Linked DNA regions of Homo sapiens: region 1 is linked to region 2. Evidence: fine-mapped expression QTL. Tissue or cell type: whole blood. Region 2 holds a variant in brackets; the other region holds the start of a gene. All regions are shown on one strand. Distances are between the middles of the regions.

Region 1 (8,101 bases), 93 kb after region 2:
TATTCTAATTAACCCTTGTTTTACAGAAAGGAAAGAGATGCTCAAATTCCCAACAATGGTATCTACTGGAGCTGTAACTTTGATCTAGGTTTTCCAGGTATGTGAAAACACTGCCACAGCAAGAGAGCCTACAAGCCACCATATGTCTGTGGCTTCTCACTGGTGTCAGAGGATTTGGAATCCAAGCACTTTCCACAGAACTATTGCTACAGCTTTTTGCTGACTGGTGATCCTATTTTATAATTAGGTCACTTTTCTTTTTTTTTTTTTTTTTTTTTTTGAGATGGTGTGTTCAGTGGCACAATCTTGGCTCACTGCAACCTCTGCCTCCCAGGTTCAGGCAATTCTCCTGCCTCAGCCTCCCCAGTAACTGGGATTACAGGCACCTGCCACCAAGCCTGGCTACTTTTTGTATTTTTAGTACAGACGGGGTTTTACCATGTTAGCCAGGATGGTCTCGAACTCCTGACCTCAAGTGAGCCTCCCGCCTCAGCCTCCCAAAGTGCTGGGATTACAAGCATGAGCCACCGCACCCAGCACATTTTCACTGGGTAGCGTTATTTCAAATGCATGACAAAGTTATGCAGTCTTACTGAAAGCTATGTTTGTAAACTTCCCCCAAAGCATATCTCTTTCCTTCATGTTTGGGCTGCTCCACTTCAATTCTCATAATATTGCTGTTAGTATTTGTCACATTTTCCATCCCAGTAAGGCTGTGCTGGTGATCGCATTATAGGTAAATCCAACTTGAGAAGAGTGCAGCATTAAATTTTAGTGTTGATGAAGGAGTAATCTTTTTATGTGTCTGTTTTTCTTGATTGTAAACTCTTTTTTAATTTTTATTTTATTTTTGAGCCAGGGTCTTGTTCTGTTGCCCAGGCTGGGGTGCAGTAGTGCGATCAAGGCTCACAACAGCCTCAACTTCCTGGGCTCAAGTGATCCTCCCACCTCAGCCTCCCAAGTAGCTAGGACTACAGGCCATGCCTGGGTACTTTTTGTGTTTTTTGTAGAGACGGGGTTTTGCCATGTTGCCCAGTCTGGTCTTAAACTCTTGGGCTCAAGCGATCCACACACCTCTGCCTCCCAAAGTGGATTGTAAACTGTCAATTCTTCATTATGAGCAGGGTCAATCTCCAATTCATTTTTGTATCCTCTGTCCCTCCTACAGATTCTCAAAACACTGACTATTGAGATGGTGGCTGAAGTACTGATGGAAGCATTGGTGATGATGGTAGGAGTAGGTGCAGTGGTGTTGACACCAAAGCAAATTCCAAAAGTTACAAAGAATAACGATAGCTAATATTGATATGCACTTATTCTGTCAGACACTCTCTTGAGTGCCTTACATTTATTAACCGTGAAATCCTCAAACTACGTTATGCGATAAGTTTTATGATTCCATGTTTTAGAAGAAAAAACTAAAATGCTGATACATTAATTGTTTTGACCAAGATGTCACAGATGAGTGGTATAATCAGGATTGTTTGAATCTAGTTTTGAGTCTAAAACTAGTATCTCAGTCTCTACAGTATTTTACTTTTCCAGAAAGTTGCAGACTATCACTGCTTTGTAATTTAATGTTTTCAGTCTGGCATGGTAGGAAAAGTACAAAGCTTTTGAAAGAAAGATACAAGTCCCTGCTCCATCATTTCTAATCCAGTAAGCTATTTCCTCATCTTATATAGTGAGAAATTTCTGCCCCGCCTATCTAAATTATAAGATGATCTCAGATAAAGTATTTTGCAAACTGAACATTTAATTGTAATAAATGCTGCCTTTTCTGCAGCTACTTTTGTTCTCAATAAAATTTAGTTATTTTAAGCCAATTAAAATCTCATGCTTAATGGACATTTTCCTTTTGTAGGCAGTGACTTATGCTAAAAATTTCTATCCGAATCAATATTATTACTCAACTAATATGATTTCTTATTTATTGCTAAAGGGGAAAAATCTGGCAGAGGCCACCAGCTGGGGACATCACCAATAATGGGATAAGCTGATATATGCCCCTCCTGATGTGATACTCTGAGACATAACATCTCTTATGTTATTCCTACCCAAAAATCTAATCACGAAGGACAATCAGAGAAACTTACTCTATAAAACGAATGACCTGGACTCTGCAAAAATGTCAGTATCATCAAAGACAAAAACAAACAAACAAAAAAACAAACAAAAAAAATGTGAAGAACTGTTCCAGGTTTGAAGAGACTGGAGACATAACTAAATACAGTGTGTGATCCTGAGATGGAAAAAAAATTGGCAATAAATGGCATAATTGGGACAAGTGGCAAAGTTTTAGTAGGTCGTGTATATTAGATAATATTATTGTCACAATGCTAAACATCCCGATTTTGATCATTGTATGTTCGTTAGAGAATGCCCTTATTCATAGGAGATAACACACCAGAGTATTTACAGATGAAAGGTCATAGGGGACCAGGCATGGTAGTGCATCTCTGTAATCCCAGCACTTTGGGAGTCTGAGGCAGGTGGATCGCTTGAGCTCAGGAGTTTGAGACCAGCCTGAGCAACACGATAAAACTCTGCCTCTGCAAAGAACACAAAAATTATCCAGGCATCATGGCATGCCTGGAGTCCCAGCTACTCTGGAGGCTGAGGTGAGAGGATCGTTTGAACCCAGGGGTGTCAAGGCGGCGGCGAGCCGAGATCGTGCCACTGCACTCGAGCCTGGGTAACAAGGTGAGACCCTGTCTGAAAAAAAGAAGAAAGAAAGAAAAGGAGGGAGGGAGAGAACAAGAGAAAAAAAGGAGAGAGAAAGAAAGAATCATGATGGCTGTAATTTACTCTCAATGGGCTCACCAAAAAAAATATATATTAATAATATAAAAATACCACATACTTATGTATGGTTAAGACACCACATTGGGATAAAAATTAATAAAGTCAAATATGAAAATGTCAGATGAAAGAAAAAACATCTAGTAACTGGCCTCTGAGTTAGAAAGAAAGAAAAAATAGTTTTATTTGCACACAGTGGTACTTATTTTCCACAAATATTCCAGGAATCAGAGAAATCTAAATACAGGTCAGATGTAAAACAACAATCAAAGCTGCTGAATATTAGAAGAATTCCGATGGCACGTTGGAGAATCCAACTCATGTTTTGAATCCACTACATCCCCCAGGGATATCTATGGTCAGTACACAGCGTGGTAGGAAAAGTCCAAAACTTTGGAAAGAAAGAAAAATCCTCCATCATTTACTAATTGGGTGAGTTACTTGCGGTTAGCAGTTGAGCTGAACACAATTCCCCCATCTCTGGCAACTACTCCCAATACACACGATACCCGGTGGGCCCCGATGCCAAGGCCAAAGGGGGATTCTTAACCCAGACTGAGCCAGCCAGATCTTCTTGTGCGCCCAAGTATGCATATGCCCGTGTTCGTGTGTGTGCGCGCCCGTGTTTGTTCGCGTATGTGCCTGTTCGCGTGTGTGCACGAGCGTCTGTGTATGCGCGCATGTTCGTGTGTGTGTGCGCGCGCGCATTGGTACATCTAATACCTGAAAGTCCCCAGTACCTAAGTAACTCCTGGGAGTAAATGAGTAGATGCATTCAGGAACAACTGAATTACCAACGTTTCTGGATTACTTCGCAACGAAAGGGCCGGTGACTCTACTCCGGGCTGGCCCTCCTCCTGCCACATCAGATTTTCCAGAAATTGCTCCGAAGCACACTTCAGTAGCTAAGCAGGGAAAGTTAAATGAAGGAATTCTTTGCTCCCAGGGGTGGCGGGGAGGAACTGCCCGGCCACAGTCTTTCGAATGTCACCGGTTTAAATGGTCAGAGAAGCAGAGTGGCACAACCTAAAATTCAGACGCGCTCCGCAAACTCCGGTCCTGCCCATCCCCTCCTGAAATCAGCGCCCTGGCAGTCCCAGGCCACAGCCCTCGCGGGCACAGAGCTGCTCTGATTCTGCCCACGCCTCCGGGAGGAAAAGGGTGCAAATCAGGGGCGCCTCGGCCCCTCCTGGGTCGTCTATCCCCAGGGCCACCCCCGCGCGCGGCCGGCGGCTGGGACCGTACCTCGGGCGCTGGCGAAGCGGCACCCAGCGCGATATGGCTGGTGCAGTCCAGGCTCATGACGACCCGAGCCCGGGGGCGCGCTCGGACCCGGAACCGGCCCTGAGGAAGCGGCGGCGCCGGGAGCCGGCGGGTGGCGCGGGTGTCTCCTCGGGCAACGGGTAAACACCGCGGGGACGCGGCGGCGCGCGGCTGCGCGCGAGTAGGGTGGCCCGGCCGCAGGAGGCCGGGGTGGACCCCGAACCCCCGAGCGTGGCCTCCGTGGCGAGGGCCTGCAACTGAGCGGCCGAAACTGCCAGGGCGACCTGGGGGGAGTCGGCGGGGATAACGGTCGGTCCTCCCGGTGGGACTCTGCAGTGAATGCAATTCCAGGCCTCATCCTTATGTCAGCGATAAATACAGCCAGTGGGCACTGTGAACGGTGCTGGCGCGAGTGAGGCATAGGAAACTTCACAAGGGTGAACGGAGCATTTATTTAGCACACACTGTGTGCAAATGTGTCTGCGAGCGTGCAACCTGTGCAGGTCCGGGTCCTGCGCTTGGTTTAATACTCAGCTGTCCCAGTCTTGACGTTTTTAGGAAGTTTTGAACAAGGTGTCCTGCATTTTCATTCTGTACCGGGGTCCACAAATTATGTAGCCTGCCCTGGTGTGCGTTCTTTCATTTCACCTTCTCAACAACCCTGCCTGGAAGTACGGGTACTAGTAATACCAGTGTTAGTAACAGCCACAGCTGCTCATTATGAAATACTCGTGCTCGTCCATGCACTGTTCTAAGTGCTTCCCACGTATGATCAATCTCCTTAAATGAAACAAGATTATGAAGTGGATGTTAGAATAATCCATCTGCAAGACAAGGCAACAGTCACAGGGAAATAAAATAAAATTTCCAAGATGTACAGGGTAAGTGGTAGAATGAAGATCAGGCTCCAGATCATAACACTAAAGCACAGAGAAGATGAGTAACTTGTTTAAGGTCCCACAATTTGTAGCAGAATCTGAAAATGGAATCTGCATTCACCTCACTTTAAAGCTTTTGGTGGGCCAGGCGCGGTGGCTCACTCCTGTAATCCCAACACTTTTGGGAGGCTGAGATGGGTGGATCACTTGAGGTCAGGAGTTTGAGACCAGCCTGGCCAAGAAGGTGAAACCCTGTCTCTACTAAAAATACAAAAATTAGCCGGGCGTGGTAGCGGACACCTGTAATACAGCTATTTGAGAGGCTGAGGCAGGGAAAATCATTTGAACCTGGGAGGCAGAGGTTGCAGTGAGCCAAGATTGAGCCACTGCACTCCAGCCTGGGTGACAGAGCAAGAATCTGCCTCAAAAAAAAAAAAAAAAAAAAAGAAAAAAGCCTTTAGTAGACTCCTATGCTGTTTGAGACACATGAAATCAAACAGGTGGGAGGATTGCTTGAGGCCAGGAGTTTGAGACCAGCCTGGGCAATACAGCAAGACTCTATCTCTACAAGTTTTTTTTTTTTTTTTTTAAATTAGCCAGGCATGGTGGTGCACACCTGTAGTCCTAGCTACTCAGAAGGCTAAGGCGGGGCCAGGTGAGGTGGCTCATACCTATAATCCCAGTACTTTGGGAGGCTGAGGCAGGTGGATCACCTGAGGTCAGGAGTTCGAGACCAGCCTGGCCAACATAGTGAAACCCTGTCTCTACTAAAAATACAAAAATTAGCTAGGTGTGGTGGCACATGCCTGTAATCCCAGCTACTTGGGAGGCTGAGGCAGGAGAATCGCTTGAACCTGGGAGGCGGAGGTTGCAATAAGCTGAGATAGCACCACTGTACTCCAGCCTGGGTGACAGAGCAAGACGCCATCTTAAAAAAAAAAAAAAAAAAGAAAGCTAAAGCAGGAGGATAGCTTTGAGCCCAGGAGGTCAAGGCTGCAGTGAGCTATGATCACCACTGCACTCCAGCCTGGGCGACAGAGCAAGAGCATGTCTCTAAAGACAACACAAAAAGGCAAAATCAGAGCTATGGCAGCTTTTCTTGGATTCCATCAGTCATCCTATGTGCATTCATATTGACCCTGAGGATTTCTTCATCTGGACAATGGCTTTTGAGCTCACGGTAACTTTGCCATATATCTAATCCAGAATCATCTCAAGGCTTTCACTTGATGCACCGTTAAAGAAAAAGTTCTTAATGAAAACTTAGGCTTTCAGAAATCTCCTATTAATAGTACAATTTGGAGTAAACACATTTTTAAGTTGTAGTTTTTCCTTGCAGTAGAACCACTACAAACTTGTCAAATTTTCTTTTCTTTTTTTTTTTCAAACAGAGTTTCGCTCGTTACCTAGGCTGGAGTTCAATGGAGCGATCTCTGCTCACTGCAAACTCCGCCCCCTGGATTCAAGCGATTCTCCTGCCTCAGCCTCCCGACTAGCTGGGATTACAGGCATGTGCCACCACACCCTGCTAATTTTGTATTTTTAGTAGAGACAGGGTTTCACCATGTTGGCCAAGCTGGTCTCGAAGTCCTGACCTCAGGTGATCTACCTGCCTCCACCTCTCAAAGTGCTGGGATTACAGGCGTGAGCCACTGCGCCCGGCCAAACTTGTTAAATTTTCAATGAACCAACACTGCCAGAGGAAACACAAAATTGATGAAAACTCAAGACACCTGGAAGAGAACCAGATGGAAATCCTTCTCCATTAACTCTAATCCAATTGTTTAAGAATCCCATGTCATAAAGCCTAATTCTGCTCAGTTTGGTCAACCTTGTAGCTCTTATTCATGAGAATAGAAGATATAAATTTGCAGTCTTTAAAAATCAGCATGAAACAGATTTTTCTCTGTATAAAACAATGTGATTTTGTGGTAACTGGAGGCAGAAAAAGTACTTGGCTCAGCCCTCCCCAGATGCCTTTGAGATTTCTGGGATATCAAGACATGAGCCAAGTGACTCTTCAAGCAGCATCTGATGATGTGATGACGTCAAAGAAGTTGAGCTGGGGGGACCCCGAGGTCTGGACCTTGGAGGAGATGACGATTTGGGCTAGCTGGGACCATGGTGGTAGAACATTTCAGGCTGGGAGTTGGAGGGGGGCGGTCTCTAGGTCTGATAACAGTTTAAGCAAAGGAGGGAAGAAAAAATGTACAAACAAGTTCCAGTCCAGACCTCTCACAAAACCCCGTGTGTGGGCAGCACCGTGTGGCCCACAATACCTCCGTACAGACCTCTGTTTTGGAGTTTTCTTGTGGTGTCGTAAGTTTAGAACTCTGGTTTCCTCCTTTTGCTTGTTTGCTTGTTTGTTTTACAGATGTACATGTTTCTCACGGGAACATTTGTAATATGATAACTTTTGGAGCTTTTGACTTCCGATTGAAAACTTGTCACTGAAATCACTCCTATGACATTTTAATTGTCTAAAGGTTGTTTAAAAGAGTAGGCTTAATTTTAGTATTTTCCTAAACACTTGCTGTGATCTAAATGTTGGTGCTCGCCACCCCAAATTCATTTGTTGGAACCTAATACCCATTGTGATAGTGCTAAGAAGTGGGGCCTTTGGGAAATGATGAAGTCATGGGGGCACCACCCTCATGATTGACATTAGCCCTTCTAAAAGTGGCTCGGATTTGTTAAAGGATACAAAGTGACAGCTAGACAAGGGGAATCAGTTCTAGTGTTCCATACCACTGTTTGATGACTACTGTTCACTATAGTACATTATATAGTTTCACATAGCTAGAAGGAGGATATTGAATGTTCCTAATACAAAGAAATAATAAATGTTTGAGATGATGGATCTGCTAATTATCCTGGTCACTATATATTATTTGTATCAAAACTTCACTATGAATCCCATAAATATATACAATCATATGTCAATTTAAAAAACACATTAAAATTTTTAGCCGGCGCAGTGGCTCACGCCTGTAATCCCAGCACTTTGGGAGGACAAGGCAGGCGGATCATGAGGTCAGGAGATCAAGACCATCCTGGCTAACACGGTGAAACCCCGTCTCTACTAAAAATACAAAAAATTAGCCGGGTGTGGTGGCAGGCGCCTGTAGTCCCAGCTGCTTGGGAGGCTGAGGCAGGAG
Region 2 (8,107 bases):
ACCCCAAAGAGAAAGTTTCTATTTCAAGGATTTTGTCTCTATTTCAAAAGATTAAGGTTACTAGAAACTTTTAACTTCATAGAAATGAAGGATTACTGTATATATTGTTCATTTGAATCACAGTTCAGCATAAATAAGAAACTGCATTCTACTGTCTTTGAGTCTGCCAGATTACCTGCATTTAGCATTTAAACTCTGTGCAACTTTGCTTTTCAATTTACATGATACTATCCATCCTTACCAGAACGTGCATTTCATATGCAGTTAGCGACGGAAAATTCACGACGGACAGAGTTAGCTTACATAATTTGCTTTCATAACTGAGAGTTATTTGAACATAATCCCAATTAAAATTAATGATTCATTTATAGTAAGGGAAGGGAAGAAATACCAATCCACCTGAAATTCTTGCCTTTAATATATTTCTTCTATAATTCAAATAATATTTATTGACTCTTTCTCTAGGCCCTGGAGAAATACAGGAAAAAATGATTTTTTCTGGCCTTAAGAAGCTTGGTATATTTGGAGAAGAAAAAATTTAAAAACAATCCAATAATGGTAAAAAGTACCATGAGAGAGGCAGATGCATGTTGCTTGGAGAGCAAAAGGAAAGATAGGTAAGTCTCTTAGGGAAGACTGCCAGAGGAAGTGGTATTTGAGCTGAATCTCGAAGAGATTGCTGCTGCCAGGTGAAGGAGGTAAGGAGAACATTCTCTCGGTGAAAATAGCAGTGGGCAATGTAGGAGGCAGCTGGAGGACGCCAGACGAGTGCTGCTACAAATCTGCATGGATGTCTTTAGGCTCCGTAATCACCGCAGACCCCACCAGGGTCCTGCCACTCCCAGAAGGCTTCTGAGTTTGCCCCTGCTGGCAGGAGAAATTGCAGGGGAGAGGGAAGATGGAGAGGCCACCTGGCCAGCTCACAGAACGTGGGGCCATGGAAAAAGAAGGAATCTGTACCTGATCCTGGGGGCACCAGAGAACCACTGACCAGTTTTAAGATAAAGAAAGATAAGATTAGGCATACCTTTCATTAAGACCTCCCTGGCAGCAATGAAGAGAGTAAATCTGAGGCACAAAGAACAATGCTGGGAGCTCAGTTAGTAGGTTGTTTCCCTAGTCCGTGTTAATGAGCACAATTCTCAGAGCCAAAGCACAGCTGCTGGATATAGAGATGGGGGAGGCATTGGAGATCTAGTAAGGAGACAGGATTTACAGTGCTTAGGAATTGATTAAAAAGAGGGAAGTGTTGAAGATGGCTTGGGCAAATGGAGGCAGATTACCACCATGACTGAAGCAGGAGAGGGACAAATTTGAGCAGATGTCATTTCAGTTTTGAGTGTATTTTGGTGTTCACGGACCATGCAGGTGAAGCTGTCCAGCAGGCAGTTAGATGGCTTCCAATTTACATTACCATACTCAGGTGCAATATTTCATTTTGTTTGGTCGTGGTTGTTTTATTGTGTTTGTTTGTTTGTTTGTTTGTTTGTTTTGAGAGGGAGTCTCTGTCACCCAGGCTGGAGTACAATGGCGCAATCTTGGCTCACTGCAACCTCTGCCTCTCAAATTCAAGCGATTCTCCTGCCTCAGCTTCCTGGGTAGCTGGGATTACAGGCACACACCACCACACCTGGCTAATTTTTTGTATTTTTAGTAGAGATGGAGTTTCACCATGTTGGCCAGGCTGTTCTTGAACTTCTGACCTCAAGTGATCCACCCACCTCAGCCTCCTAAAGTGCTGAGATTATAGGCATGAGCCACCACATCTGGCCTGTTTTTGGTTTTTTGTTTGTTTGTTTGTTTGTTTTGAGACGGGGTCTCACTCTGTCACCTAGGCTGAAGTGGTATGATCTCAGCTCACTGCAACCTCCACCTCCCAGGCTCAAGCTATCCTCCCATCTCAGCCTCCCAGGTAGCTGGGATCACAAGTGTGTGCCACCATGCCCAGCTAAATTTTGTGTTTTTTGTAGAGATGGGGTTTCACCATGTTGCCCAGGCTGGTCTTGAACTCCAGAGCTCAAGCGATCCACCTGCCTCAACATCCCAAAGTGCTGGGATTATAGGTGTGAGCCACCAAACCCAGCCAATATTTCTTTACAAAATCAAATTTTCCACCATCACACCTTTACAGACATCTAACAGAAAAAGCTCCCTTCACTCTCCCAGACTTCTCAAATCTATCCCCTATTTCCATTCACAAAACCACTACTTGGTTCAGATCTTTATTATCTTCTGAACTGGGCTAGTCTGAACTGGACTATCTAACTGGACCAGTCAGGGAGCCACCAACTGGGCTCCCTACCTTCCCTCAGCTGTGTCCAACCCTTGGAAGGCGAGGACTTTTTGCTTATCTGTGGTGGCAGATACCTCAAAAATTATGCATGGTTGTTTTTTGTTTGTTTTGTGTGTGTGTGTGTTTTTGTTGTTGTTTGTTTGTTTTAGCTTATCAGCTATCACTACTGTTAGTGTATTTTACGTGTGGCCCAAGACAATTCTTCTTCTTCCAATGTGGCCCAGGGAAGCCAAAAGGTTGGACACCCCTGCTACCCTCTAAGCGAGTCTGACTTGAGGGAAATCTTTCTTTTACTCAAAAACCTTCTCTGGCTTCCCATTACCTACGCAGTGAAGCCTGAGTCATTAGACTGACCCATCTCGATCATTCCTATAGCTGCCTCCAGTGCCATCTCACACCTTTGGTTTCGCCAAGTATCATGTCCCAGGCTCCCTGCACCTCATTCATTTCCTGAGCCTTCTTTTCACACCTCCATTTCTTCTTTGTTCCTGCTATTCTTTCTGCCTCAAATTCCTTCCCACCTCTTCTGCCTGACAAATTCCTACTCATTCTTTAATGCTCCCCTCTTCTGTGAAGATGGCTCACTTACCACACAGAAAAAAAGTCATTGCTCCTTTTTCCAGGTTTCTGTTAAATTTTATACCTGTCTCCATCATGGCACTAATTGTACTATTTGCACTAATTGCACTATTGCACCATTGTACTATTGCACTAAGCGCACTAATTGCACTATTGTACTATTACGCCCCGATCTCCCTGTCTCATCTGCTAGACTTGATTTTCCACAGACACCTTTGGCACATCTTTGCATATCCAACCTCAATGCAGGCATGATGATTCCTCAATGTTTTAAGTACAGAAGAATGAAAAGGAATATGTTACTTGAGTGTACATGTTTCAACTTTAGGGCATTTTTCATGCCAAATTTGGCATCGAGGCTCTTGGGCCTGTGTGCCTCCCTTTCCCTTCCCACACTCCCTCCTGCAGACTCTTTCAGTCCATACTTTCCCCGCCATCCTGTCCAGCAAAACCTTTCTTTGATCTTGTTTTTCACAGCCACTGCCTCATGCCTCTCTTCTCTTTGGTCACCAGACTTCACACTGGTCTACTAGAAGGTCGCTCCCCTTCCTCTCAAGGATCCCCTCAGCACAAACAAACTGGCTTTTGCTCTCCACCGCTCCACCAAAACTGCCTCTCAAAGATCACTGACAGTCTCCCCACATTCGAATCCTCAGTGCGGGCTCCTTCTCTTCCCGTCTAACTCTCCTCTCCCACTGGGTTATCAGTGCCATTGTTTCCGAGACCCTCCATGCCACAATCTCAGCTCCACGGGGACATCACGCTATCTTTCTAAAATACTGCAATGTGGCCTGGCACGGTGGCTCACACCTGTAATCCCAGCACTTTGGGAGGCCGAGGCGGGCAGATCATGAGGTCAGGAGATCGAGACCACCCCAGCTAACACAGTGATACCCCGTCTCTACTAAAAATACAAAAAATTAGCCGGGCGTGGTGGCGGGCGCCTGTAATCTCAGCTACTTGGGAGGCTGAGGCAGGAGAATGGTGTGAACCCAGGAGGCAGAGGTTGCAGTGAGTCGAGATCACGCCACTGCACTCCAGCCTGGGCAACAGAGCGAGACTCTGTCTCAAAAAAATAGAAATAATAAACATAAACATAAAATAAAATAAAATACTGCAATGCTCACACTTACCACACTTCATATTCTACAGAGTAAAGAACACTCCATCTTCATAGTCTAAGCCATTCCAGTCTTTTCTCTTGCCACAGATCCACCGAGAATAACATGTTCCAGCCATGGAGGATTCACCATTTTGC[G/A]TCCTCTGAATATACTATGCACTTGCCAGATTTCATGCCTTTCTTCAAACTGTTTCCCCTACAGTATCTGTCTCCTGTCTCCACTATAATCTGACTTATCTTTCAAAAATGAACTTAATTATCTCCTCTCCTATAAAATCTTCCCTTTATCTGGAAGTTCCTACAGCACTTTATTAATTCAATACATATAACATGTGTAAACTTATAGTACAGCAAATTATCTGAGTATCTGTCTCCCCTATTGAATTATGAGCCTTTAAGATCAGGAACTGTGTATTATTCATATTTTAGCTTGCCAAACCTTTAGGACCTCATATATGGTAGGCATTCAATAAATACTCGTTGAGTTTAATTAAATTAATTTGAATCAAGGAAGCTCCAAACCCATTGTTCCTTGAAATTGACTTAACCAATTAAGTCCAGGACTTAACCAAACTAAATACTGTAAAATTCAGGATATTTTCAGGTAAAATTTTATACTACAACAGATGCTTCCACTCATGGACATGCCCTCGGGTCATTACTTTTTGTTTCTCAAAATTCAAGTTGTCTCGCAAAACACCTCCAGAAACCAGCTCTGCCTCCAGGTGTGTCAGCTGACCCTGAAGAGTCTCCAACATATTCTCTGCTTTCTGGGCCCTCTGGAGAGCTTTCTGGTGAAACCCAGACTCCTTTCCCAACTGTTCAACAAGCTCAGATATTTGGGCTTCAAGCTGGGAGACCATCTGGAAACAAAGAAACAGATCAAGAATAAGCCTTGTTTCAGATGCAAGGAAGTGTTCACATCTACTGCTCTGCCTAAGCAGCATAACTGTTTATGATACCAACTTCCAGATTATTTGTAAAAATCCCATTTAAAATATGTAATTGATAGCTGTATTTGCCTCTGTTTGAAATAATCTACTTTCATTATTGAATTAAATTTTTCGATTGGTATTTTTAATTTTTATATAATTCTTTTATCAGGTTAATCAATAAAAATTTATGGATAACATTTACTTACCCCAAAACTATTGCTAAGAGTTTCAAAGTTTAGTAGGAAAAAGAATTAAGACAAAAAGTACTGTAAAAATCTACAAAGAGTCATTCCCCAGAAAAATTCTTTCACCATTTTGAGTTGACTTAAGATTAGACAGTGAGATAATCTTGGTAGGTAACATTGAGGTATTACAGGGAATTCATGTACAGATATATGCTTTTTCAAACTTTTTTCAGCTTTCTGTTGAAGATTGGTTACCTATGCCCTAAACTCCAGGGATGCTGACTCTACACTACATAGTTATAGAGTAATACCATTTTTGCATTGGAGAGGTCAACATCTCTTTAATATGGTGACTCTAAATAAGGTCAGTGTCAATGTACAAGAGAGCAGGGGAATCTGAGTACTGTCCCATGTTAAAGTCCCTCCAGGCTCTCCACAACCCACCTGATTTGCCCAATGCTCCCATCCTTCCCAGGAGTTCCTCTTTTTGTCCTGATCATTCCCTTAAACCAAGAGTGCAAGTTTACCAAGGACCTCAGGGACACTCTCAGAAAACTCAAACTGATTTTACTAAATCCAGTTTCATAAAATGTTGAATTCAATAAAACCACCAAGCCTAGGGTGATAAATTTGTTTTCTTTCGATGGTTTATTTTGGAAGAGAAGAGGGAAAACATAGTATTTACATAACAGTACAGTACCATTCTCACAGAAATGGAAACATCCTGACTGTTTCAGATTTTTACTGTCTAAATTTTTAAAAAGAAAACAATTTCTGTTTGCCCATCTATAAACAGCCGTGCTTAAACACGTAATCTGCCTTTAAACTTTTTGAAAGGCTATTATATGGGAGAACAAAAGGATTTGTTCTGAGTTACCCTCGGAGCCTATATTGAGAACCAACAGGTATAAATCAGAGAAGAAATTCCATATTTATGAAAGGAAAATGTTTTCCCCAGTTCCTATAATTATAAAGTAAGATATCCCCATGAAATTTCTTTTAACCACAAAAAGTATAAACAGGCAAAAAACAATCCCCTGTGATCCCACCACCCAGAGGCAAAAGCCATTAATATTTTTAAATAATTTGTTTTTGTGTATTGTTAAAATATAGTTGAAATATTATACATGCAATTTCATGTCTTTGTTTTTACCTAATTATTCTCATGCCGTTTGAAATTCTTAATTAACATTTTAATGGCTGCATTAAGAATTCATCATGAGAATGTGTCATCATTCACTTAAGCATTCCTTTCTAAGAAAGGAAAAACTCTTCCCTGTGAGGTCTGAGAAAAAAAATTAAAAATAATAAATAATCAAAATAAAGAAGAAAGGGAAAACTTTACAATGATTACAGCTGTGTAAAGACACTGTCCAGTAGGGAGTGGATTCCCAGTCACCGAAGATGGCCGGAAATTGGCTAACTACAGGCACATCTCACTTTATTGCACTTACTTTATTGCTCTTCGCAGATATTTTAGTTTTTTACAAATTGAAGGTTTGTGGTAACCCTGCATTGAGCAAGTCTATCAGCGTCATTTTTCTGACAGCACACGCTCACTTTGTGTCCCTGTGTCACATTTCGGCAATACTAGCAATATTTCAAACATTTTCATTACTATGATATCTGTTATGGTGATCTGTGATCGGAGATCTTTGATGTTACTATTGCAGTGTTTGGGGTGCCACAAACCACTCCCATAATAAGTCAGTGAACTTAAATGATACATGTGTACGTTCTGACTTTTCCACTAACTGGCTGACCCCACTTCCTCTCCTTGGGCCTCCCTATTTCCTGAGACACAACAATATTCACATTAAGCCAGTTAATAACCTTACAATGGCCTCTAAGTTTTCAAATGAAAGGAAGAGTCAGGCTGGGCATAGTGGCTCACGCCTGTAATCCCAGCACTTTGGGAGGCCAAACTGGGTGGATCACCTGAAGTCAGGAGTTCAAGACCAGCCTGGCCAACATGGCGAAACCCCATCTCTACTGAAAATACAAAAATTAGCTGGACGTGATGGCTCATGCCTGTAGTCCCAGCTACTTGGAAGGCTGAGGCAGGAGAATCACCTGAACCTGGGAGGCAGAGGTTGTAGTGAGCCAACATCACGCCACTGCACTCCAGCCTAGGTGACAGAATGAGACTTCCATCTCAAATAAAAAAAAGCGAAGAGTCGCACTTCTCTCATTTTAACTCAAAAGATGGAAATGACTAAGCTTAGTAAGAAAGGCATGTTGAAATCTGAGATCGGCCAAAAATTGGGCCTCTTACTCCAATTAGCCAAGCTGGGAATAGAAAGGAAGCGTTCTTGAAGGAAATTAAAAGTGCTACTCCAGGCCAGGCACGGTGGCTCACGCCTGTAATCCCAGCACTTTGGGAGGCCAAGGTGGGTGGATCACCTGAGGTCAGGAGTTCAAGACTAGGCTGACCAGTATGGTGAAACCCCATCTCTACTAAAAATACAAAAATTAGCCAGGCGTGGTGGCAGGCGCCTGTAGTCCCAGCTACTCAGGAGGCTGAGACAGGAGAATCACTTTAACCCGGGAGGCAGAGGTTGCAGTGAGCTGAGATTGCGCCATTGCACTCCAGCCTGGGTGACAGAGCAAGACTCCGTCTCAAAAAAAAAAAAAAAAAAAAAAAAGTGCTACTCCAGTAAACACACTGATACAGTGTGGATATTTGTCCTCTCTAAATCGCATGTTAAAATTTGATCCTCACAGTTGGAGGTGGGCCTAGTGGGAGATGTTTGGTTCATGGAAGCAGATCCTTCATGAATGACTTGGTGTCATTCTTGCAGAATTGAGTGACTGCTCACTCTTAGTTCCCATGAGCTCTGGTTGTTGAAAAGAGCCTGGCACCTCCTCCTCTCTCTCCCTTTCTTTCTCTCTGGCCATGTGATGCCTGCTCCCCTTCATCTTCTGCCATGAGTGAAAGTTTCTTGAGGTTCATTGCCAGAAGTAGATGGCACTGTGCTTCTTGTATAGCCTGCAG

The links. PIP is the estimated chance that this variant, and not a neighbour inherited with it, causes the effect.
Region 1: it holds the start of CCDC170, and the variant in region 2 is fine-mapped to the expression of CCDC170 in whole blood (TOPMed, PIP 0.93).

Annotation. Positions count from the first base shown.
Region 1 is chr6:151,490,132-151,498,232 of GRCh38, reverse strand. It overlaps CCDC170 (coiled-coil domain containing 170), which reads right to left and starts at 4,216. Exons shown (of 11, transcript NM_025059.4): 1 at 4,048-4,216. The coding sequence starts at 4,104. It overlaps LOC124901436 (a long non-coding RNA gene), which reads left to right and starts at 27. Exons shown (of 2, transcript XR_007059817.1): 1 at 27-97; 2 at 1,169-1,826.
Region 2 is chr6:151,582,637-151,590,743 of GRCh38, reverse strand. It overlaps CCDC170 (coiled-coil domain containing 170), which reads right to left. Exons shown (of 11, transcript NM_025059.4): 7 at 4,655-4,855. Among named protein-coding and RNA genes, the nearest start is that of CCDC170, 93 kb to the right of the region's middle. The variant G/A (reference allele first, on the strand shown) is at 4,131.